Regions from separate parts of the Homo sapiens genome. Here region 2 is linked to region 1. Evidence: fine-mapped expression QTL. Tissue or cell type: fibroblasts. Region 1 holds a variant in brackets; the other region holds the start of a gene. All regions are shown on one strand. Distances are between the middles of the regions.

Region 1 (12,792 bases):
GGAAGAGACACCCACGAGGCAATTAAAACTTTGGTCCATGGTCTTTCAAAAGTGAAGACTGGGGGCTTGCATCAAGAAGTCTGAGTTCTCATGAGCCGACTGTCAGAGCTAAAACATCAGAACTTTGGGCCAAGGATCGAAAATGTGTAATGCATAAATGTCTGTAGAAACTGCCAAGGGATTTGTGTGAGCTGACCAACTGTGCAAACAATTATCTGTGTTTAGAAAGCTCTACAGTAACGGAAACGTGAAGATTTGGCCTTTGGAGTTGAAGAATCTCCTGGAAATATCCCTTGGAGTAACTACTTGTTTACTTGGAAAAGCATCTGATCCTGGGCAAAAAAATTTCCCTTTTTTGGTTGACCTCAATTCTTCTCTCCATTCATGACAGGCTGTTGCTCAAGAAAGGGCAAAAGGTCTAGCCATGTGAGAATCTGGTATTATGAATTCTCCTCCTTCAGATCATCACATGGCTTGTTTTCTCACTTCCTATGAGTCTACTCATAGGTTCCTTTCTCCGCAGAGCCATGCTTGGCCATCCTATCTAGCATGAAACCCTCCACCCCATCCCCTGACTCTTCCTCTACCATCTTCTTGGCTTTGTTTTCTCCTTAGCATTTCACGTCTAACATGCCAGCTAGCTAATATATTCATTTTTTATTTTCCTTCTCCCTTACCTGAATTCTTAGGCAAGAACATTTGATTGGTTCATTGCTATATCCCCAGCTCCTGGAAGGAGAACTGGCATTAAAAGATAAGTCTTAAATGCAGACACTCCTTATGGTGCATGCCATCTCAGCAACCACAGAACTGTGCAAAGGGAAGACACGGTTTCAGGACACGAGTTCCAGTTAACAGAGGCAAATTGAGGTGGCCTATAAATAATTGTTAGGATGAACAGAGCTGTCCATACTTCTATTTTATGGTTAAGGCCACCAGGGAGAGGTTGTTATTTGCCCTATATACATCATTCCTGACAGGAGGTTTCTCCAACAATCACCTTCCAAAGAACCAATGTGGTAGACACACTTGGGGATGATCTATTCAAGCCATACCTTCCCTTCCACAAGAACTACTTGCTCCTCAAGCCCTAACAGACTCCACCTCAATCAGAGACAAATGGACTGAAAGTAGGCTACCCACAGAGAGCCAAGCTTTTGGTAGAGATTAGCCCAAAAATCTGAATGGAGATATGGCGATCTTGAGAGAAGGAAAGTCTGAAGGAAGGTGCAAAACACATATACCTTTTGGTTCATAAAGATACCTGGCTCTACCCTCTCCGACATCCCACTCAACCCCACCTTTGCATCAATTCCCTGGTCTATGCCAGCGCCCTCCTTAGACATTTTTGTTGTTACTGTTTAGTTGTTATTGCTTAGTTTCCTTTGAAGAGAGTTATTCTTCCTTACAACTAAAGAAACCTTGATTGAGATGCACAGTGGGCAGCTGGCACCCACCCCACCACTACTGAGCTACCAAGAGACCAGAAGACACGGCCTCCATGCAAAGAGATTGGTGCAGATGGAGAAGTCAGGATGAGGAACAGCTGGAGACCATGCCACATGCACAATAACCCTAGGCCTTGAGAGGCACAGGTGAGGTTGAGCGCAGCTGGAGAGGAGAACTTTGAGAAGCCCTCATGAAGGTCTGCCTGGCTTGTGGTTTAATGCTTACGCCTGAACGCCACCACTGAGCCCTGCGTGGGATTACTTCAGGGGGAATTTGAGGAAGTTGAACTCAGTAATGGGCATGACTTTGCAGCTAGGCACCTTTCTGGCCCTGAATCCTGGGGGCATAGTGTTTAAGATCATGAGGTCTAGACCACCTGGGTTTAAATCTGAACTTTGTAATTTATCCTGGGGAAAGTCCTTGCCCTCTTTCAGGGGCCTTCATTTCCTTATGTGTAAAATGGGAATAATAAAATAACACCTAGTGTACAATGCATACAAAGTAATTGACAAGGGGCCTGGCATGTAAATAAGTGTTCAATAAATAACAGCATTGAACACCTGAGTTTGTCTTACTTTAGGAACCAAGCCACTACCACTATGCAGTTTCTCCTCGGTGTGTTTCCCCACTGACAGCCTGGTCATATTTCAGATTCTCCAAGACATGCAAAAGTTCTACCTAAAGTGAAATATCGGTCTTTCTTTCTTTCTCTCTCTCTCTCTCTCTTTCTTTTTGAGATGGAGTTTCATTGTGTTGCCCAGGCTGGAGTTCAGTGGCGCGATCTTGGCTCACTGCGACCTCCGCCCCCTGGATTCAAGCGATTCTCCAGCCTCAGCCTCCCGAGTAGCTGGGATTATAGGTGCCCGCCACCACGCCCGGCTGATTTTTTTGTATTTTTAGTAGAGATGAGGTTTCACCATATTCGCCTGGCTGGTCTCGAAGTCAGGAGACTTCAGGTGATCCACCCATCTCAGCCTCCCAAAGTATTGGGATTACAGTCGTGAGCCACCACACCCAGCATCTATTTTTCTTATTTAACAAATGCACCATGAGCTAGCACAGGACTAAATTCTTCATGTATATGATAAAGCAGGTATTATTATCCCATTTTGGAGGAAAGCAAACTGAGACCCAGTGAGGTTACATGGCTTGAAATAGGCCTAACAATCTAATAAATGATTATTAATGTCTACACAGAAAAAACCCAAGCATCTTACTTTCTCAGTAAATTGCTTTCAGAAAAGCTAAATGTTAGTTCAAGCCTTGGTTTTTGTCTTGGTGAAAGGCACTTGCATAAAAAAGTATGAACTGAGCTTGACTACTGGTTTTAAAATACAGAATAGGTGCTTAACCAAAGAAGGAAGGAAGGAAGGGAGGGAGGGAAGGAGAGAGGGAGAGAGGGAGAGAGGGAGGGAGGGAGGGAGGGAGAGAAGGAGAGAAGGAGAGAGGGAGAGAGGGAGGGAGGGAGGGAGGAAGTTTGGTTGGAAAGGAAGAAAAACAGAGGAAAGGATGAATAAATTTTTAAAAATTGAACATGAAATTAAGAGTCAATCTTGCTCAAAAATTCCCACCTATAATCAGAATGCTCCTCACTAACCAAACTGATAGAAGTTTAGTCAACAAATTTGTCATTTGTCCTCTGTATGGATTACAGCATCATTCAGTTTTAGCTAGTGACATATTGTTGGGCTGAATCTTAAATAATGCCCAAACAGTGAAAAATCTTAGTGGAAAAAACCCCGACAAAACTAAGTCCACTTGAATATCCAAATTGCTTCAAACACTCTTTAATACAATATAATTCCAACACAAAAATAATTCCAAGGGTTCTTCAAAATTCATTATAAAACAATTTAACCGATATATAAACACTTGTTCTTGATTCCAGGACCTGAAATTAACCAGAATAAGTGGAATGAAAAATCTTTTGAGTAATTGCTGTGTATTTTGTCGTTCTTTACTTTTCCTGGGTTATAAAATTTTTGTAGTTATGGAAGTGATCTTATTACTTATGACAAATTTGATTAGTGGCTATTCTGTGGCAAACATTATGAAAAATACCTTAGCTATGTTATCTTATTTAATTTTTAATAATATTTTAGTTTTTTTAAATCAGAGAAACTTAAACAATAATAAAGAAGGCTTATGATTTTACCCAAGATAAATCAAATGATGTTAAAAGACAGAAGTAAAAAAAATGCAATAAATGCTTACAGTTAAAAAAATTCACATAGAAAGGGAAGAAAACTTATAAAAAAAATAGACATTCCCTCTTCAAGTTATCAATGCAAACTGGAAATTTTTATAATTCCTTCCAGTAAAAACAGAAACAGAATTCCATACTATCTCATTTGCTTTTAGTCTTTATAACGGTGAAGCAAATATTACTGTCATGCCCAATTTATAGATGAGGAAACTGATACTTCAATTAGTTAAATAATTTGCAGAATGTCTCACAGCTGGTAACAATGACAGACTAAGGTTTGAGCCTGAATAAACAGAAACAGGATTTGAACCAGTCTGTCTGACTTCGAAAACTGTTTGTTCTTTTTATCAGGTAACCTGATCATATCTGATAGTCCTTTTTTGGCTTTCCGATGTGATCAGCAATATGAAAGAAGTAGATATGGCGAAAAAAGGATCACCGACCCTGGCTATACGGTTAAAACCGATAGAAATGTGAGGCTTCAGAATATATTTTTGCAGACCTATTAATTTGGAAAGCTATTTACAAGCCTCAAGTCAGGCCTACAAGCAATGTCTTATTTACCTCCCTAAGGAAGGTCACATTTTGGGGTCCTATAAGTAAAAATAACATTGATAGCTACATTTAAGGGAGAATTGGAAAACTCAAAGGCATGGTGTGATTCATTGGTTGGACGATTGCACAGATGCCTAACTGTAAATGCACACACATAAAGAATTCTAATAAATCTAATAAATGATTAGCTGTATACCTACATCAAAATTTGGACTTAGATGGGACACCTATTCAATCTGTTCATTTTATACACAGAAGGTTAGGTTGCAAGTAGTGGTCATTTTGTCAGCCAAAGACAGAGCTGGGGGAGTCCTCTGGCCTCCAAAACCCCTCTGCTGAGGACTCTTTCTGAGTTACCACCACTAAGTGTCAAGGCTCTGGCCTTGCCTCCATCTAACCAGGAGCACCCTGTTTCTAATATTCCCATCAGAGAAGAATTTGAAATTTGCTGAAACTATCCAGTACAACATTTAACAAGATTTGGCATGGACAGTTTCTCAGGAATTACTGCTTTAAATAGCCAACACCTTCCCATAACGGACTTTGTGATTTCATAGATGAAAGCACAGGTTTTTCACCCCCACATAAAACCAACTCTTGCCAGATAGATTCTTTCACATTTAGGTGGCTTATCATTTCCAACTTTGTTTAGACAGCTTTGCAGCTGCCATTTTGGAGAAAGGGCATCGGTGAGGGAATCACCAGGGCACAGAAGTCCTTTGAAAGGCTTTAAAAATGAGTTCATCCAGCTAAGACAATGTTTTCCAAAAATAATGTACTTTGGCTTAAAATGTAAAATTAACATCAAATGAAGATCTCTTAAGAAGCTCTAAAATGGAGATGACTATCTTAGTAGCGTGTAGTAGGTACTTGATGCAATCAGCGTGTTCTACACAGGTAATTACTTTTACTACTAATGGTGCCTCCCACTCAGTGAGAAAGATAAGAGGCTCCAACTCTACTTAATCACGAGGCTTCTTTATTATGGCTCGACCACCTACTGAGTAAAACAATTCGCTTGCTCTATTCAGCAACTCTCACAAATGAGAAAAATTTATTAACATGTGAGCAGAATGGGACTTATTTAGTATGTACAAAGGGGATTACCACATGATTTAAAAATACATAGACCATTCAAAGAGTTGTGTGGGTCATCTTGAGTGAAGGCCTTTCTGGAAAATGTTTATTTTTGTAATGTTGAAGCTGGTTTGCAACAACTGTCCAGTTCAATGTGCTTTGAAGCTATTTAGAAGTGTCTGTTAAGAGAAGGGAGTGACGAAATTACACAAATACAAAGTCAGTGACGGGTGACCTTGGGTAAGTTATTCATCTCCTCTGGGCTATTTTCATATTTGTGGAATGGGAATAAGAACAAAAATATCTGACTGCACTCCAGCCTGGGCGACAGAGTAAGACTCTGTCTCAGAAAAAAAAAAAAAAGAATAAACATATTTGTTTCATACTTACGTACAGTCAGTCTAATATAAGGTGTTTGTGTGTTTCTAAAAAGGACCACAGTCTTCTAAATTTCACAATAAAACCCACAGAGCTTACGGGGAAAATGGGTTTGGGAGAACAAAGCTCCTGTCAGTAACATATAATAAAAAAGCAGGAACCTAATACAAACAGTAGCACCGTTTTATGCAGGTTAAATGGTGAAAAAATTTATAAACACCGTGATAAATAAGTATTTTACCTTAATAAAGAGCCGTGGAAGTGGGTGTTGGAAGTGGTGGGAGGAGTGTTACCTGGAATCCTACAGCGTTGTAACAGCAATTGTGCATGGGTGGGTGGGGCTTGTGGCACACCAGCTGAAGGAAGTGAGTAGATGTTTGAGGTATGTGTGTGTTTGCTTTTGTGTATTTCTACATGGCCTGGTTCAGCTGGGTGCAGTTTTCTGTGTTCAGTGTTTCTCAAGGACGAAGTCACACGTACACAAATGCAAACTCAGTGTCAAGCTGAAAGTGTATCCACCATTTTGGAGCAAAATTATGTTTTAAGGAAGCATTGGCTGGGCACAGTGGTTCAGGCTTGTAATTTCAGGACTTTGGGAGTTTGAGGCAGGATCACTTGATGCCAGGAGTTTAAGACCAGCCTGGGTAACATAGCGAGACCTCATCTTTACAAAATAAAAAATAATAAGATAATAAAAAAAACAGGTGGGTGTGGTGGCACATGCCTGTAGTCCCAGATACTTGGGAGGCTGAGGCAGGAGGACTGCTTGAGCCCAGCAGTTTGAGGCTACAGTGAGCTATGATCATGCCACTGCACTCTAACTTGGGTGACAGAGAAAGATCCTGTCTCTAAAAAACATGTTTTAAAAGCAGTATTATAGCAGAACCGACAGCATTATGAAGATTAAAGAAGCTAATGTTTGTCACTACACAGTGGGACCTTAAGAAGTGTTATTTTTGCCTTGATCTCCGTGGCTGCCTCAATTAAACTGGTGTCAAATTCAATCCCAAACTCATAGCTGGTGGACTTAGGCTGTTCATCTCTTTGTTATTCTGGATCAACAAAAATGATACGACTCTAAAGCAGGTGTCCCCAGCCCCTGGGCCGCGGGCCGGTACAGGTCCGTGGCCTGTTAGGAACCAGGCTGAATAGCAGGAGGTGAGCGGTGGGCGAGCGAACATTACCACCTAAACTCTGCCTTCTGTCAGCAGGGGCATTCGATTTTCATAGGAGTACGAACCCTGTTGTGAACTGTGTATGCGAGGGATCTAGGTTGCACATTCCTTAGGAGACTCTAACTAATGCCTGATCATCCGAGGTGAAAGACTTTCATCCTGAAACCATCCATCTCCCCTACCTTTGTCCGTGGAAAATTGTCTTCCATGAAG[C/T]TGATCCCTGGTGCCAAAAAGGTTGGGGACTGTTGCTCTAAAGAACTGACTTGCAATGTTAATAGAGGATTCAATGCATTTGTTAAATGTGTACACTTGTACCTTTGTCCTTGCCTACAACAATATCATTTCCTGTAAAGAGATTAAGCACAAAGCCAGGAAATACCATCCTCTTCCTTAAGACCAAGTTGAAAACTACTCTGTAAGAAGCAGAAATTTAGTGGCCCTTGGGAGGAAAAAATGGTGTTACTATTCACAATGTTTGATTAGCACCAGGGAAGGGCAGACCAATTTCTCTCTAGAGCCTTTTAGTAAGAATTAATGGGAAACACATACATAAGGCTCTCTATGCGTCTGGTACCATAAGAGCTCTGGATATATTAACTCGTTTAAGATTCGAATCATTCTACATAATTGCTTTTCGGGTCTTGATGTTTTTTATTAAATTAGGTAAGCTGAGCTAGTCTGGAAATTCAGTCAGATTTCCAGTTAGCTAGGCAACAAGTTTTCATTGGGCAACAACAACTTGAAGAGACTGAATAACCTAAGTTGAACTTTGGAGTCAGACCAATCAGAATCACGGCTTCACTCATAAGCTATGTGTATTAGGACATATAATTCAACTTTTGTGGACCTCAGGATCTCTTCTGCAAAAAAAAAGAAAAAAAAAACAGAAAAAGAAAAAGGTTACTAGTAGCTATAGTAGCTATCTGCTGGTGCTTTTGTGAAAATTAAATGAGATAAAGGGTATAGAGTGGCTAGTGTGATAGAGGGCACAGTCAGCACTCAATACATTTATTTATAGAGTTATTATCGTTTTATTACCAGTGTGGGGCCAGCTGATATTCACTTCGTTAGGCATATTGGCACATAATCCAGCTGTTTGAAATAGTGCCTGGCTCAGACCAAAGCCTTGGAATTTGGCCTCTAAAGACTTGAAGTCTCTGCATTCCTGATTTTTTCCTTTCTGTATTCCCAATACACAGGATTATTCTGTCTCTGTAGCGCTAAGATGCCTTAAACATAGCAGCGATTTGAGAGGGTTTTGCACTTGCTCTGCAGATTAACCTCTTCCAGTGTGAACATGTCACTGTCTACGTTAACCACTGTCTGGCAACCCGCATGAGATATGCACACTGTTGTCTCTATTTCTCATCTCTCATTTATTTTTCAACCCACCCAGTCTGGCTTCTCCTCCCATTGGTCTACTGTGAATGCTTTTACTAAGTTCACCCAGGAGCTCAGCCAAGTTAAGTCCAGTGTGCATTTTTTCAACTTGCACCTTACTGACTTCTACTAAAAGTAGTTAGTAGAGCTAACCACTTTTTCCCTCTTGAGACACTCTCTTCTCTATTACTTCCTATTTTGACAATCACCCTATGTTGATAGTCTTCCACGCTCTCCAAAAGCTCATGTTTTGCAGACTTTTTTCCTTTTCAATGTTGGATATTGGCCTTTCTCAGGGCTTAGTCTTTCTTCCTCAATAATCTCACCCTAAACATGCTCGTCCACTGCCAGGGGTTCATTATGTTCTATTTGCTAGGACTTTGACATTGATGTAATTGGGTATTATGTTGAAATCCAGATAAGTACCCAATGGTCTTCTCCCTAACTCTTGAACATCAAACTTAACAGTTCCCAAATGGAATTACGATTTTTACCTTTACCAAAATTTTCCCCCACTCCATTATTCCCAGCGTACCTCTAAATTTACCATATAGCCAAGCTCTATTGATTTTTACCACCAAATCTATCTCAATCCACCCACTTCTCTACATCTCTATTGCTGCCAGCCTAGTCTAAGCCACCATCTTTTTGTCACCTGATTATCACAGTAACTACCTCACTGCTGTCCTTGAATCCATCCTCATTCTACTCCAATACATCCAGCAAAATGCAGCCAGGGTATTTTTCAAAGATAATTTATGATGTAATCCTGTGACTAAAAACCTATAATAATTCCTCCATGCTCAAAGACCACATCGAAAAGTGTTAACATGATCCCAAATATGCCAGAGTCCCTCTAATCCAGTTTTATCTTGTACCATTTCATGTCTTTTTTCAAGAAATATTTAACGAGTATTTATTAGGTGTCAGGCATACTGTAGTTCTTGGACTTGGCAAATCTTCTACAATGAACAAGTATTACTCAAAATTTTAATTTAAAAAATGTCTAGGTGTTCATTCAAAGGAATAGAAAAAAAGCTGTCATGAAATGGTTAAACCCACATTATTTTCTCTATTCTGAGTAATCCCCCTAAGTGCAAAACTCTTTACTCATATGTTTTTAGATTTTGGGTTTAGATCTTTGACTTCAGGAAATCTCCCTTTCTTAGCGTGAACACACAGATTTTGCAGTCTAAAGCTGGATTCGTGATTGATAGAAGCTCTTCGCATGTCATTCTCCCTCCTTTCCGATAGATTCACTCTCAGAAACAGTCATGCAAACTCTGCCTACGCATTCAGTAAATTGGAGAAGTTGACATTCTAAACATCTAAAAGGTAAGGATTTGGGTAACAGAAACTCACCCACATTGTACACAGGGCACATTTCAATTTTCTGCTGCAGTACTCAGAGGAGATTAGAGTGTTCACAAAGTTAAGAAATTTCAGAACAGACAGGGAGAGTGAGCAGCCAATTTCCATTGCATCTTTGCAAGTGACTATCAGGAAATTTGTTATTAATTTTGTCCAAGGTGATGTAATCCAAACATTAGTCACCAACCTCCTTTTCAGCGATAACGAATGATCTATTAATTGCCACACTGACTGGCCTTTTGTCAGGCTTTGTTTTTCTTTGACCTTTGTGCAGTATTTGATACCTCCACTACCCTGTCTGTGTGACTCAGGCTTGGCTGCTGTGTATGATGTGCCTAAACCTCCTGGGTCGTCCTCCCTTCTGTTTGCCTTTCTATCTCTGGATCATCCAGAATTGCTCCTAATATGTGGACAGGTCCCAAGACTCTGGTCTTGTCAATCTTTTCTCCCCTTGCTAACTCTCCCTTCTCAAACAAAACTAATTCACTCTCACAGCTCCAACTGTACAGATGATCCCCAGAGTATTATCTTTTTTTTTTTTTTTTTGAGGTAGAGTCTTACTCTGTCATCCTGGCTGCAGTGCAGTGGCACAATCTTGGCTCACTGCAACCTTTGCCTCCAGGGTTCAAATGGTTCTCCTGCCTCAGCCTCCCAAGTAGCTGGGATTACACGCACACGCCACCATGCTATTTTTTTTTTGTATTTTAGTAGATACAGGGTTTCACCATGTTGCCCAGGCTGGTATCGAACTCCTGACCTCAAGTGACCCACCCGCCTTAGCCTCCCAAAGTGCTGGGATTACAGGCATGGGCCATCGTGCCTGGCCTCCAGAGCATTATCTTTACCTCTCATCTCTGCTAAGCTCATAGACTTGTGTCTTCAGCACCTGAGAGACTACTTCCACTTGGTCACACTTTTCCTTTCCCCTCTTTTGCTTTTCCATCAGAATTTACCTCTCCACTCTCTCTAAGCCCGAGTTCTCTTAGGAATACCATGATTCTTCCGGATACAAAAATGCAAAACTCTGAAACTGCACATCAGGGTCTTGTTTATAACTCTTTCTTTAATGACTTCCCATCACTCTCTGAATTGCGTCCAAAATGAATTATGCATCTGCAAGTCCCTTTTATAATTTAACTCTTTCCAGCCTTCCAGGATCCTCCATCTAGTCCTTCATCAGGTTGTGTTTTCCTAAGTTCATTGAATGTGCAACATCTTCCTGCCTCATGTTGTCAGCAAATAAGGTACCTGTGCCTAAAATGTTCTCCACTCCATGGCCTGCTCCACCCTCACCTCCCACCATCAACCTAATTTAGTGCTGTTTTTTTCTTTTTTAGCTGTGAGCTTTGACATCACTCATCTCAGTAAGCCCTCAGTGATCTTCAGACTGGGTCAGGACCTCCGCATCGCTTGTATGGAATCTGGCCCAGTCCTTTCATAGTATTAAGCACAACTGAAACGTGCAGTCTGATACTGGTTTCCCCACTAGATTGTGAGCTCTGTGAAGGCAAGGACTTGCTCATCTACTTTCATCCAGTGCCTGGCACACAATAGGGCCTCAGTAAGTTGAACAAATGAATGAATGAATTAAATCACACTTTGGTGACTCCATTATCAGCCATGTGCAGTTTGCCAGCAAATTCAGCAATTTTTCTGGTTAATATCACTCCACCCTTCCTTCCTGTCTCCATCATCCTTTCTGCTGTCATCCAGTCCAGGCTCTCATCATCTCTTGCTTGGATCACTGTAAGAGCTCAACTGTTTTCTTCAGATCTCTCTTTGCTGTGATTAGTTTTGTAAACTACTGCCAGATTAATCCTTCAAAAAATTCTTTGTGTTATTCCTTTGCTCAGTAATCCTTGACCACTCTTTTCTGTCTACAGAACAAAGTGAAAAGTGTCCTAGGGTCTCAGAGTCGAAAGGAACCTTGAAGATCATCTGGTGTAACCACCTCTCGCTAGAAGTGAGGAAAGCGAGGTCAAGAGGGGTTGGGTGACTTGCCAAAGAACAAGGAATCAGTGTTTCAGTCTCCAGACTGAATGCAGTTGAGAATGTGCCACTTAAAACACATTCAGTCTCTCCCATTGCATGTAAAGTACAGCCCAAACTCCTTCCCATGGTCCCCAGTCCCAGCAGAACCTGGCTCCCACCGATGGTGGCTGACTTGTCCCAGTGTGCCGTGGACTCTCCCAGTTTAAAAACTGAAAATCCATCACCCCAAGAACTCCCTCAGTCTCCTAGCAGCCTGGGCTGGTGATCACCCTACTCCTTCCTCCACCTTCATTCTCATATCTTATCACGCTCTGCCTTGTTTAGTTCTCACCTGTCCTGCTGCCTTCTGTTTCTAGAACATACTATCCAAACTCATTTTCATCTAGGGCTTTTGCACTTGCTTCTCCCCTCTCTGTGTTTGCCAAGGTTAGTATCAGAAACTAACCTCCCTGATTTGTCGCTCCTTTTATAGCTTGGCATGCAGTGCTTTCATAATCTGACTTCAAATCCCCTTCGTGTCCCTATTTTCCTACTACCATTCCAGTAGAGTCACTTATGTGCTCAAAAACAGTAAGCATTTTAATGATGAAAATATCTGTTGAATGAAAAACCCAAGATCTTTCTTAATCCCATTGCACAGGCTATTAAAATGGTAAAAAGAAAGATCCTTTGCACAGAGCAGTCCATGAGCTTCACAGCAAAGAAGGCAATAATGAAAAAGTCTGAGACTACCTGTCTCTTTTTTATTTATTTGCATTACTCAGTAGATTCCAATCTTACTCATTATAACAGCCCAGGGCCCTTTAGGCCAAGCACGTCACAATGATCTATCGTTGGGATAGAAATCTTTTGGTGATGACAGCCAGGATTGACAGGGATGTTTAAATCCTCAACTATGCTTTGGATGACATTCAATTTTTTGTCATGAAATTTCAAAATGTGACTGGAGCACTTTCAAAGCTTTCCACATGGAGGAAACGTCAGCGACAAAAGAGGACATAAAACATCTGTGGTTGAGTGGGAAAAACACTGACCTGCAAGGTCAAATACCTTGGGAGGGTTGGGGTTCTTTCTGATGAGCTGGATGACTTCAAGTAAGTCATTTGCTTCTCTAAGCCTCAATTGCTTCATCTGTTAAATGGGACTAACAATACATATCTCTGTTGAAAAACGAGTAATACACATGCTAGTTCCTTCAGCACCTTCCCT
Region 2 (12,792 bases), 110 kb after region 1:
ACTTGTCTTTCTGAAGGATGTTTAAACAAAGTGAGGGAGGAAGGGTCCCAAATCTACCCGATTCCTAGTCTCTTGAAAGCTGTCCCACTTGACAGTAAATTAAAGGTAAACTTCGCCCTGAGCTGCCTGCCCCCTCCCTCCATCCTGTTGGTTGAGATTTCTGGGACCTCACCGGTTAATTCAGAGTCATCACTATCAAGAGGTGGAAAAGAGATCTCTGAGGTCATTTCTGCTCTGTTGCAGTGTTCAGAGTTGTCCCTGTTGACTATGTTTCCCATGTAAATAACCTGTGTTATTAAGGTGCAAATTGCAACTTTTAAGTAATGATTGCTAATAGTCTAATGTTTACTGCCACACAAGGACATTCATGAAAACAAAATCTGCATTATTCATCTCCATATTAAATAAACAAAATAAATTGAGGGAGCTGTTCTTTCTTGCAAGACTCTTCAGATCTGGGTGATCAGAAAGCCTTTAAGAGTCAGCAAGAGGGAAACATCTAATTGCTTTGGGTGGGCAGGGGCAGAATCCTATAACTTACATATATAAAAGATATATTCACAAGATGTGCTCACAAAAGATTGTGTGTTCTATTGCAATTGGCTGTCATTAATATAAAAGCAGTTCAGTATGGTGAAATAAAATACGTATTATTTATGTGCGCGCACAGAGGCTGAGATAGGCTGTAGAAAATCAAGAGTTAGATTCTAAGTCTACAATTTTAAATTTTTAACCACTCTGCATCCTGCAAAATGCAAACAAATCAAAACACCGTTCTGTTTTACTTTCCTGCCATTTTCTCTATCTCCCTTGAAATGCATAGAAGGGGAAAATGCTGGTACTGAATCCTGCAATATTTTCAGGTAATAGTGGATGTATTTTAATGGTGAGTGAAATATACATCCAAGGAAGCAAGCATGCACACACAACACAAACCCCTGGGGTACTGTAGGCTGCTTTCTCAACTTTTTTTTTCTTGCCCTAAGTAATAGTATGGTGGAATAGCATAGCTTAAGAAAGCCAGGAAGAATGACATTTCAGAGGGAAATACTCTGATTTAGCTGTTTCCTTAAAGAGAATTGTCCCCTCACATCCCTTCCCCCTGAAGGGGGAGGAACATAACAAATAAAGACTAAAATTCCTCATCACTTACAATATCATCTTGTTTATTCTGTTTAGATACCTGCTTTAGTAGAAAGTTCTGTAATTGATTCCTTGAAACATGGAACTTATAACTAATAATACAAAGGAATCAAATTGCCTGGAACAGTTCTTGGGAAAAAGAGCGCTCCGGGAGAGCCTCAGCTCGGATCCACTCACAGGCTTTTTCTATCTCCCATTATTCATTAATCAAGCTAGAAATCAAGCTTTCAACATCAGTCCTTGGGTGTAATTACTTACAGTTGTGCATTGTGTTTAATTTTAAGCAGTGATAAAAGTTAGTATGGCCATAATCTTAGAACCCACCTTCTCCCCTTCCCTGGATGTTAACTGACTACAGAACCCCAAAGTGGCTAACTTTACTTGTGAATAACCACTTCAGCTGAAATAGAGTAGGGCATTGATGACCTTAGATGAACAGAAGAAACACTGCATGAAAAACTGTCTCCTCTATTAATATGTGAGCAAATAAATAAGGTAAGAGGGCCCTCACTGTGTACGAAATGAATCATCCTTTTTCAGCTTAAAAAGGGTTTCCGCTTCTGGTGAAAATAATAAGAATCATACAAAACAAACATACAAAGACAGTAGGAATATAATAGGCCAGAAAACTGAAACTATAGTTACAAGTTTCTAACACACACACACACACACCCCCACACACCCACACACACCAATAAACTAGCCAGCACCAACAGACACAGCTTAATGAAAAGGACCTGATTTAAATAATGTGATACAGTGTTATGTTACGTACACCTGGATCCTTATCGATCGTAGGATAATTATAATCAAAGTCGAGCAATTCTGAGCAATGCACTTTTTGTAATGAGCTTACTAAAGGAGACATGTCCAGTCATTCTGGTAATTTAAATTACTGCCTAGTTGTTGATAGTCTTTACCGGAACAACCAGAAAAAAAAAAAGAGTAATTTTCAGGGCAGTATCACTTCTTGCTGGACCGTAGCCCAGGGTTCTCTTTCGGGACAACAATAAGGACGTTATCTCTAATAATGTAGCTACACTTAAACTTATGTTGCCAGAACTAGATGCAGCAGGCTCACTGTTCCTGGGTCTCAAAGGCCATTGAACACATCCACACGCTGTCAGATTGCAAAGCAGCCTAAGTTTTAGGAAATCAGTGAGTTAAATGCAGAAAGAGACAACGGTAGGAAAGAGACATTGTTTTCCAAAGAAGTAACTAGAGTTGAAAAAAGAAAACCTCACTGATGAGGCAAGTTCCAAATACGTACCTCACTAAAAATATTTTAATTATTTTGCTTTTAGGGAAACGATCAGAAAATATATGAATCCACGCTTTATCAATATTTCTGCATGCCACTTGAACCAACTTACAAATAGGGAAGCAATTCTGTGCTCAGAAGGAATGATAATTGTGGATATTTTGAAACACTCAGGCGAGGAAGGAGGATGAGCTTGGTGGTTCAACACATTCAGACAAGGGATGCCCACTCTCCTCAGATTCCTAACTAACTTTGGATTTGTTCTAAGGGTGACTTTGCAAAGTTTATGAAAGTGTTCCACCAAACTTCTCCCTATGTTTTGCTAGAGTTGGAACAGAATGAAATGTGGAGGTGGGTCTGCAGAAGACCAGTCTTACCTAATGTTGCCTAAATCAAGAGGGTAAAGACAGAGAGAGAGGAAAAAACAACTAAACTTAAGCTTTTTGCGAAAGCCCTGATTCAACTAAAGGACACAAAGAAATAAAAACGCCCACATTAAAAGCCAAACAAGATAATAATTGTGCATGTCTGGCTCTGAATATAGAGGGCAAGGTTTGCGTCACTGGCACTCTGAGTTACCATGGTGAGTGATTTATTGATATATATCAAGAATGAATAGATCAAAGGCAGCGAGATGACAGGTGATCAATCAAATGTCAAATCAAAACTAGCAATCAAGTGGAAAGCTGATTTTTCAGTGGGTGGGTCTGGCAGAAGAAAAATGAACTTTCATATTACATTTCCGAGAAACAAAACCCCAGCATACTATTAAAAAAGCAATTAAGCAACCCAAAAGAAAAAAAAACTTTAGAAGGTCTATTGTACTGATCCATTAACCTGTTCTTATCTTTTTTAGGGGGCAGTAAGGATTCAGATGGGATAGTTTTTACAGTACGAATCATTTCACAAAGTTTGCAACTCTCTAGGCAAAGAAAATCCAGAGCTGTTTAAATTTCTATGGGGAATTTCCCCCCTACAACCCTTTTTGGTTTTTTTAAAGAATAGGGAAATTGTTAATTACATTTCCAAATATGGATCCTTTTAGAAAATATATGCAAAGAGTCATCCATTTCCTGGGGGCATTTTGTCCACCTTGGTGATCAACGCTAAACTCCTATTGCTGGCCCCAAAGCCTGCCTGCAGCCCGAGTGTTAGGTATGCCTCACACTTCAGCGCCCCAAGCCCCAGTGAGAGGAGACGCTATCCCTGGAGGCCAAAAGCCACTGGCACTGACCACGCAGAGGGATGCAGGGGTGGAGGGGCTGTCTCCCTACTCCGCACCCCAAATCCTCAATCCGACTTTGGCCCGAGAGGCAAGAAACAGACTGGAAGAAAGTTAGGGGTGGGGTAGAGGGTGGAGGAAAGAAAGTTTAAGGAGGAAAGGCTTGGTGGGATAGCTCACCCCAACCCAACCGGAGCTTGGAAGGGGAGGATTTGGGAGACCAGAGAAGGCGAGAGAGGACGGGGTTATTAGAAGGGCACCCGGCGCAAACTCCCCCGAAAGCTTAAGTGGGTGGTGCCCCCGGGCACCCAGGGGCAAGGAGGGCGGGCGAGGAGCTCGGCGCACAGGGCAGCCCCGAAGCGGAGCCGTTTCTCTTACCTGCCGCCCGCTTGGGTGCCTGCTGTTTTCTCCTCGGCATCCTCTACTTCGCTCCAGTCCCACTTCTGGCGCCCCAGCCCCGAGCCGCGCGCTGGGGCCCGCTGTCTCTCTGGCCTCTCTGGGTCTCCTCCGCCTCTTGCCCGGTGGCTCCTAGGACGTCACTCGGCCTCTGTCCCCCTGACGATCCCCCCTGCAACTCCTCCACCACGGGCCAGAGACCCCCCTCTCTGGGTGGCAGACACGGGTGGCTTGTGCCGGCTGCTTTGAAGTAGAGGTTGGTTCTGCCTTGTTTGTTTGTTTGTTTATTTTGAATTTTTTTTCCTCTCTCTTTTTTGTTTTTGCTTTTGGAATTTTTTTGGTTTTGTTTTTGCGGTTTTTTTTTTTTTTGGTGACTGTTGAGACACTTGATTTCTTTATTAAACATCCAAGCCCGGGTTCGGATGGAAGGGACGAGGGGCGCACACGCGCCACAGGCACACTCGCGCGTAAAGATAAGGAAAAAAAAAAGGCAATCCTGGGAAGGTAGTGGGTTTCTTCTTTTTCTTCTTCTTCCTTCTCCTCTTTCCCTCCTCCTCCTCCTCCTCCACCTCCTCCTCCACCTCCTCCTTCTTTTCTTCCTCCTCCTCCTCCTCCTCCTCGCCGATCTCTATGGCGGATTCGTGCCGGGGGGAGAGCGATCACTCACTGTAGGTTTGTGGCTGCTGTCAGATCCCCGTCTGTGAGTGATATGCGAGAGGACAGGAGCGGGTTTTGGAAAGACAGAAAATCTGGAATTCACTCACTCACACACACACACAGACACACACACAGACACTCACACACGCACTCACACGCGCACGCACCCCCGCTTCCTCGCACACACACACTCACACCCCCCACATATGCACACACACACAAACACACACACACACCCTCGCACACACACACAAGACAGGGCGAGGCGATGCCAGCAAACATCGATCCCGCTGAACAAACTGAACATTAACAAACTCCTCCTCCTCCTCCTCTCCCCGCGACCTGATGACAGGGAGAAATTTACTCCCCAGCCGCAGAGCGCCAGGCAGCGGGAGCCTATTAAAGGGACAGCGTCCCGCAGGGGAGAGGGGCTGGGGGCGGGGGCCCCGGCGCGCCGGCCCAGGCCCCTCTGTGCGCCCTCTCCGCCGGGGCGAGGGCGTGCCCACCGGGCGCGGGGACACCCCTCCGGGAGGCGGAAGGGGCGGGGGCGGGAGGAAAGGAGGTGAGGAGGGAAGGGGTGCGGGAGAAAAGGAGGCAGTGTGATGATGGCTGAACTCTGAAGCTGGGAGGCTGTGGAGGGAGATTCAGGGGGGCCAGGTTGGCTGACCAGCAGGGACCATGCACAATCTTAGGAGAGGGAGAACTTAGGTTTGCTCGGGGCTGGGAAGGGGGAGGGGACCTTATCCAGTGAGGATCTCCATCCTGTAAGTCTTAACCTGCCCCCACCAAAATGTGCTCCCCACGACCCCTTCAATTTAGTGCCCCTGTCCCTCCCACTTTCTCGCTAATCAATGGGTGGTCACAAAAACAAAAATCTCCCTTCTGTCTACTTTAAGGTCTAATCATATACTCCTCTTTTTGTTTCCTTTGAAGAATGTTTATTGAGCATCTACTATGTGCCTATTCTGGAGACACAGAGGCCACAGAGAAAGGGAAGGTGGTGGCCATGTTGGTATTTATATTCTAATGGGGGAGTGCAGACAAGTGCCCCCCAGCTATCCAATCTTTGCTTAAATGTCCCCTTTTCCCAAAGGTCTACCTCACCTAAAATACACACACACACACACACACACACTCCCTGCCCCATTTCTCCATTTTGTTATTCCCCAGTGAGCTGATCAGTGAGTGTCACACAGGTTATAGACAGTTTTCTATTCTGTTGATTGTACAAGTTCCCCTCTTGAATGTAAGCTCCAATGGAAGGAAGGATTTTTGCCTCTTTGTTCTCTTATATCCCCAAGTGCTGGCAAAGCACAAGACATATAATAAGTGCCCAGTAAAATATTTGTTGAATGAATGAAAAGTAAGCAAGCAAATAAACAGGATACTTTGAGTGATTCGCTCCATGAAGACGTTAAGCTGAGTGCTGTAATAGTGTCTAAAAGGGGGTGGGTGGCTCTAGATTCAATGTAGGATATGGCATTTGAGCACAGAGAGATTGAAACAAACATGTGATTATTGAGTTCTGCTATCGGCCAGGCACCTTTTGAGGTGTTGGGGGCAAGTCTGTGAACAAGGTGAACCTAGACCATGCCCTCAAGGAGTGCTCCTTCCAGTGAGAGGGCAAAGCAACTGAGGGCATTTGATGCAGGCTGGGACTAGAGGTGTTTTTTTTTGCTTTATTATTTTTTTTATTTCAATAGCTTTAGGGGTAAAAGTGGTTTTCGGTTACATGGATGAATTGCATAGTGGTGAAGTCTGGGATTTCAGTGCACCCGTCACCCGAGTAGTGTACATCGTACCCAATAGGTAGTTTTTCAGTCCTCACCCCCTTCCCATACTCCTCGCTTCTGAGTTGCCAATGTCCATGATATCTTTCCATATGCCTTTGCATACCCATGCATTAGCTCCCACTTATAACCAAGAACGTGTGGTATTTGGTTTTTGATCCTGAGTTACTTCACCTAGAATAACGGCCTCCAGCTCTATCCAAGTTGCTGTGAAAGACATTATTTTGTTCTTTACTATGGCTGAGTAGTATTCCACGGTGTATATATATGTGTGTATATACACACAAACACACATATATATACACAAATACACATATATAGATATATATACCACATTTTCTTTATACAATAATCAGTTGATGGGCACTTATGTTGATTTCATATCTTTGCAATTGTGCTGCAATGAATATACGCCTGCAGGTGTCTTTTTGACATAATGACTTTTTTTCCTTTGGGTAGATACCCAGTAGTGGGGTTGCTGGATCAAATGGTAGATCTACTTTTAATTCCTTGAGAAATCTCCATACTGTTCTCCATAGAGATTGTACTAATTTACATTCACACCAGCAGTGGGTATAAAAGTTCCCTTTTCCCCACATCCACACCAATATCTGTTGTTTTTTGACTTTTTAATAATGGCCATTCTGGCTAGGGTAAGGTGCTATCTCACTGCAGTTTTAATTTGCATTTACCCTGTGATTATTGATGTTCAGCATTTTTTCATTATGTTTGTTGGCCATTTGTCTGTCTCCTTTTGAGAAATGTCTATTCACGTCATTTGTCCACTTTTTAATGAGATTATTTTTTTTTTTTTCTTGCTGATTTGTTTGAGTTCCTTGTAGATTCTGGATATTAGTCCTTTGTCAGATGCATAGTTTGCAAATATTTTCACCCATTCTGTAGGTTGTCTGTTTGCTCTGATGATTGTTTCTTTTACTGGGTAGAATTTTTTTAGTTTAATTAGGCTCCATTTATTTATTTATTTTTGTTGCATTTGCTTTTGAGGGCTTAGTCAGAAATTCTTTGCCTAAGCCAATGTCCAGAAGAGTTTTTCTTAGGTTTTCTTCTAGAATATTTATGGTGTCAGGTCTTATGTTTAAAGTCTTTAATCCATCTTGAGTTAATTTTTATATATGGTCAGAGACAGGGATAGTTTCATTCTTCTACATGTGGCTATCCAATTTTCCCAGCACCATTTATTGAATAGGGCAGGGGTCCCGAACCCCTGAACCATGGACTAGCACCTGTCCATGGCCTGTAAGGAACTAGGTGGCACAGAAGGAGGTGAGCAGGTAGGGGTAAGCAAGCATTACCATTTGAGCTCTGTCACTTCAGCAGGGGCATTAGACTCTCATGGGAGCTCTAACTCTATTGTAAACTGTGAATGCAAGGGATCTAGGTTGCACACTCCTTATGAGAATCTAATGCCTAATGATCTGAGGTCAAACAGTTTTATCCCAAAACCATCCACCCTGCCCTGGTCCATGGAAAAATTGTCTTCCATGAAACCAGTCCCTGGTGAAAAAAAGGCTGGAGAACACTGGAATAGACCTTTTCCCAACTTATGTTTTTATATGCTTTGCCAAAGATCAGTTGGTTATAAGTATGTGGTGAAGGTGTTCTTAGGAGGAGTGATTACCCTGAACTTGGCGAAAGGAAGGATGGTTACCAGGCGGGGCTTCAAGGGAAGAGGTAAGTCAAAGCTGAGTCTTACATATAACAAACGGGTAGGCAAAAAGGGAACTCTGATACTGAAGCCCTTGTATCAAAAAGACACCGTGTAAGGCTTCTGCTTCCGCATTAAAATCTCCTGAGGCCCTTGTTAAGATGCACGTACCTGGTCCTTGCCCTAGAGCAAGATTTTCTAACCCAGGCCCTATTGACATTGAAGGTCTGATAATTCTTTGTTAGGAGGGGCTGTCCTGTTCAATGTAGGATGTTTAGGAACATCCCAGGCTTCCGTTGTGACAATGCAAACTGTCTCCAGATACTGCCCAATGTCCCCTGGTAGGCAAAATCGTCCTTGGCTTAGCATCACTACCCTAGATCTTCTGAATCAGAAAATTCCGGATGAAGGCTTAGAGATCTGTATTTTGAACATGTAACCCATCCATCCCTACAAGTGAAACTTCTGCTCACACCAGTTAGAGAACATCTGCCCCCAAATTGTTTGTTCTTTTGTAATCAGACATACTCAATGTTGTTAACTATAAAGCCAAGTCAGGCTTAGATATTAATGTAACTTAAGGGTTCAAGGGGTGATGTTGTAATGGTGGCCGTCGCGATGGGGTTTCACCTGTGCCCACTCCTCAATACTCCTCCTCCCACCATGATCACCCCCACCCCACCACCCCAGCAAGGCCTGCCCAGTCTGATCTGGGACACTTCCCACTACAACCCACCCACCTGCTTATGGGGAACTACCAGTTCTGACTAGTTCCATGAATATTTTTCTTAACAGTTCTTTGGGCTGTATGACACTCAACTTTCCCTATCCTACTTGTCAGCCACAAAGTGTTGTTGTGATTGTTTGCAAAGTGCTGTTTAATCATTTTTAACATCCTCACGCACTTCTCCATCTCACATGTGTGGTACAAGTTGTTAACTCACTTGCCCTAAATCACCCGAGAAGCCTCCACCCATGACCAACTCCACCCAGTCCCAGCCTAGTCCTTAGGCAACTGAGGCAGAAAAAGCCCGATTTCATAGTTGGCAATGTCAACAAAAAAGGTATTAATTCTAATTACCCAATACATTTTTACAGAGCACTGTGCAAGGGACCATAGCCTATTGAATAAAACCTCACAGCCTTGCAGCCAAGGAACCACCGTTGTGGGATTAGGGGATACTTGTTTATAGGATCAGGAGGCCTGAACAGAAGAGGAGTGAAGCTGCAGCAACCTCACCATGAAGCCGCCATGCTCTGTGCAAGCCCCATGCCTGCTGGTGTGGTGTTTGTGTTACATTCAGCCAGTTATTTCACAGACATCTACTGCGCCTGTTAGGTCTACCAGGCCTTGCCCCAAGCACAGCAGATTTTGGAATGCATAAGGTAGGATCATCACCTTCAAAAAGCTTTTGGATGTTATAATAACATCCCAAAGACTGGGAACTAAAAAAGAGGGAATTTGGAAGCTGGGTCCAGCCTTGGAGACAATCAGGAAGGAAATGGGCAGGAGAAGATGACTTTGGATGACAGAATTTCCCTGAGGTTCTATCCAATATCCTTCTCAGAATTTTACATCCGCTCTCTCCTTGTTCTCAATAGCTGGTTATATAATGTGGGGGACTTGTAACAATTCTGCAGTACCTACTTTCTGGCTGGCTATTAACACATTGTTGGATCTACATTTCTGAAATGTTCTTTTATTAATTTGTATTTTTTCATACCGTTACTAATAGTTAGCTTAGTTATCCACGAAAATGGTTTTGGCTTACACCAGCGGGATGTATAACACTATGTACCCAGTGCTGTAGACAAGATGTTAAATAATATTGAATCACATAGTAAGAAAGTTATTCCCTTTCAATTCTCTTTCAATCTGATAAAATAACCATTTTGTGCTCGTGTCTCTTTTATACCTAATGCTTGCTAACTTCTATTTTTCAACAAAGATACCACGGATCTTAGGCTCAGAAGCTTGGGAGGGACAAGAGTATCTAGCTAGACTTTTAAAAATGTTTTGTTTTCAAGCATATGAAAAAAGCCTCATCATCACTGATCATTAGAGAAATGCAAATCAAAACCACAATGAGATAACATCACATGCCAGAATGGTGATTATTAAAAAGTCAAGAAACAATAGATGCTGGCAAGGCTGTGAAGAAATAAGAAAGCTTTTACACTGTTGGTGGGAGTGTAAATTAGTTCAACCATTGTGGAAGATAGTGTGGTGGTTCCTGAAGGATCTAGAATCAGAAATACCATTTGACCCAGCAATCCCATTACTGGGTATATTCCCAAAGGATTATAAATCATTCTAAAATAAAGACACATGCACATGTAGGTTTATTGCAGCAATATTTACAATAGCAAAGACTTGGAATTAACCCAAATGCCCATCAATGATAGACTGGATAAAGAAAATGTGGCACATATACACCATGGAATACTATGCAGCCATAAAAAAGAATGAGATCATGTCCTTTTCCAGGACATGGATTAAGCTGGGAGCCATAATTCTCAGCAAACTAACACAGGAACAGAAAACCAAACACTATGTGTTCTCACTCATAAGACTCATAAGTGGGAACTGAACAATGTGAACACATGGACACAAGGAGAGGAACAACACACACCATGGCCTGTTGGGGTGGGGAGCAAGGGGAGGGAGAGCATTAGGACCAATACCTAATGCATGAGGGGCTTAAAAACCTAGATGACGGGTTGATAGGTGCAGCAAACCACCATGGTACGTGTATACCTTTGTAACAAACCTGCACATTCTGCACATGTATCCCGGAACTTAAAGTAAAAGAAAAAAAAGAATTAAAAAAATGTTTTGTTTTTAATGCTTTCGATTTAGAGTTACCTTCTGTTTTTAAAGATCCTGCTCTCCTTGCGTAAGAGCAATCTAATATTTAAACCCATTAAGTGGAATTTTAAAAATAAGTATATTAAAGGAACAATAGAGAGTAAAAAGTGATTCAGGTGGGATGTGGAAATGGCAAAATGTGAAAGAGATGGTGTGGGCATTGCTAGAATTGGAAAATACTGTGCTAAACCATAGACTCTGGCACTTGGGGAAACTTCTTATAAGAGCTGGTGTCTTGGGATGAGGCTATGTTTAAGTCTCCAGGGAACTTCGCTTCCTAGGATCCAGCACTCGAACTTTGGGATGTGTAAGGGCATGAACTGATTGGAATGACTCAACCCTACCTTCCAGAACAGTTGTTCACATGCTGGCTGAACATCAGAATCACCTGGGGATTTTTTGTTTTTCAAGATAAAGAACCCCAGGCCACATCCTAGACTTACTAAATTAGATTCCAGGGTGGTGTCAGAAAAATCTCAAAATCTTAAAGGTCCCAGGTGATTCTGGTAAGGCACTAGGCATAGGAAACTTTTCTGTACAAAAGTTGAATTTTATAACAAGTGAATAGAGTTTGCAGAGTTTCTTGCATGCAAGGAACAGAAAAGGCATTTGTTCTTGGATTCACTCAAGTCTTCTAATCACACTGTAGAAGCCTATCAATCCTCCCCCTCAAAGCACACAACATATCGAATTTGTTGTTAGTTCACCTGTTTTACCACTGATGCAATTAAACAAATATTTGCCAAGCACCTACCTTGTGCAGGGCAGTGCTCTAATTACTGGGCTTTGGGGTAGCCTTGTGATACCTGAGCACAGAGAGAATGTCTCAGTCACCATAGTGCCTCCTGTATAGGTTTCAGGACCTTTACTCTTATTCTTTCCTTCTACAAAGTTCCTCCTCCAGATCTATCTTTCCTCTTCACTCTAAACTCAAATGTACCTTTGTTGCCTACCCTATCTGTCCCACTCTTTCTCTGTATTTTCTTCATGTATTTTTGTGTTTTTCCTGTCTGTCTTCCCAAATTCACATTTATATCCTCAGGTTGAGCACCGTATTGGTGCTTATTAAAAATCTGTGGAAGGATTGAACATGAAGCTGAGGATACATGCAAGGAAGGTCTTTTAAAAATACCTTTGGCGCAATAGGGTTTTCTTTTCTTTTCTTTTGTGTTTAGAGACAAGATCTTGTTTGCTCCCAGGCTGGAGTGCCGTGACTCGATCATAGCTCACTGCAGCCTCAAGCTTCTGGGCTCAATCAATCCTCCCTCCTCAGCATCCCAAGTAGCATGGATATCAGGTTCGAGCCACCACACTCTATTAATTTTATTTTTGCAGACAGGGTCTCTCTGTGTTACCCAGGCTAGTCTCAAACTCCTTGGCTCAAGCAATCCTCCCGCCTCAGCTTCCCAAGGTGCTGGGATTACTGTATGAGTCACTGCTCCAATAGGGTTTTCATTAGATATGGAGATAACATTTTAGCTTATGTGTCTCATTCTCAATTGATGCTGTCTTCCCCTCACCAACTTCCCTCCCTTTTCCCCTTTCCTCTTGTCTATTGCCTCCTTCAGATCCTCTCTTAAATATCACCTCTTCCAAGAAGTCTTCCTGGGTGGATCTTTTGAAATGCATCCTTCTCTGGTCCGTATCTTTTCAAAACAAAGAGTCTCAAGGTAGACTATGATCCCAAATGTATTAGTACACAAGCAGAGAGAACAAATTTATGCTTGCCTATCATAGTGATGGTTACTTTGGAGGGTGGGTCTAAGGAGGCTTCTGAGAGGCTGGGAT

Evidence for each region.
Region 2: TSHZ2 starts here. The variant in region 1 is fine-mapped to the expression of TSHZ2 in fibroblasts (GTEx, PIP 0.93).

What each region holds. Positions count from the first base shown.
Region 1 is chr20:53,074,756-53,087,547 of GRCh38, reverse strand. The region is part of intron 1 of TSHZ2 (teashirt zinc finger homeobox 2); the gene reads right to left. Among named protein-coding and RNA genes, the nearest start is that of TSHZ2, 110 kb to the right of the region's middle. The variant C/T (reference allele first, on the strand shown) is at 7,054.
Region 2 is chr20:52,964,546-52,977,337 of GRCh38, reverse strand. It overlaps TSHZ2 (teashirt zinc finger homeobox 2), which reads right to left and starts at 4,980. Exons shown (of 3, transcript NM_173485.6): 1 at 4,005-4,980. The coding sequence starts at 4,044.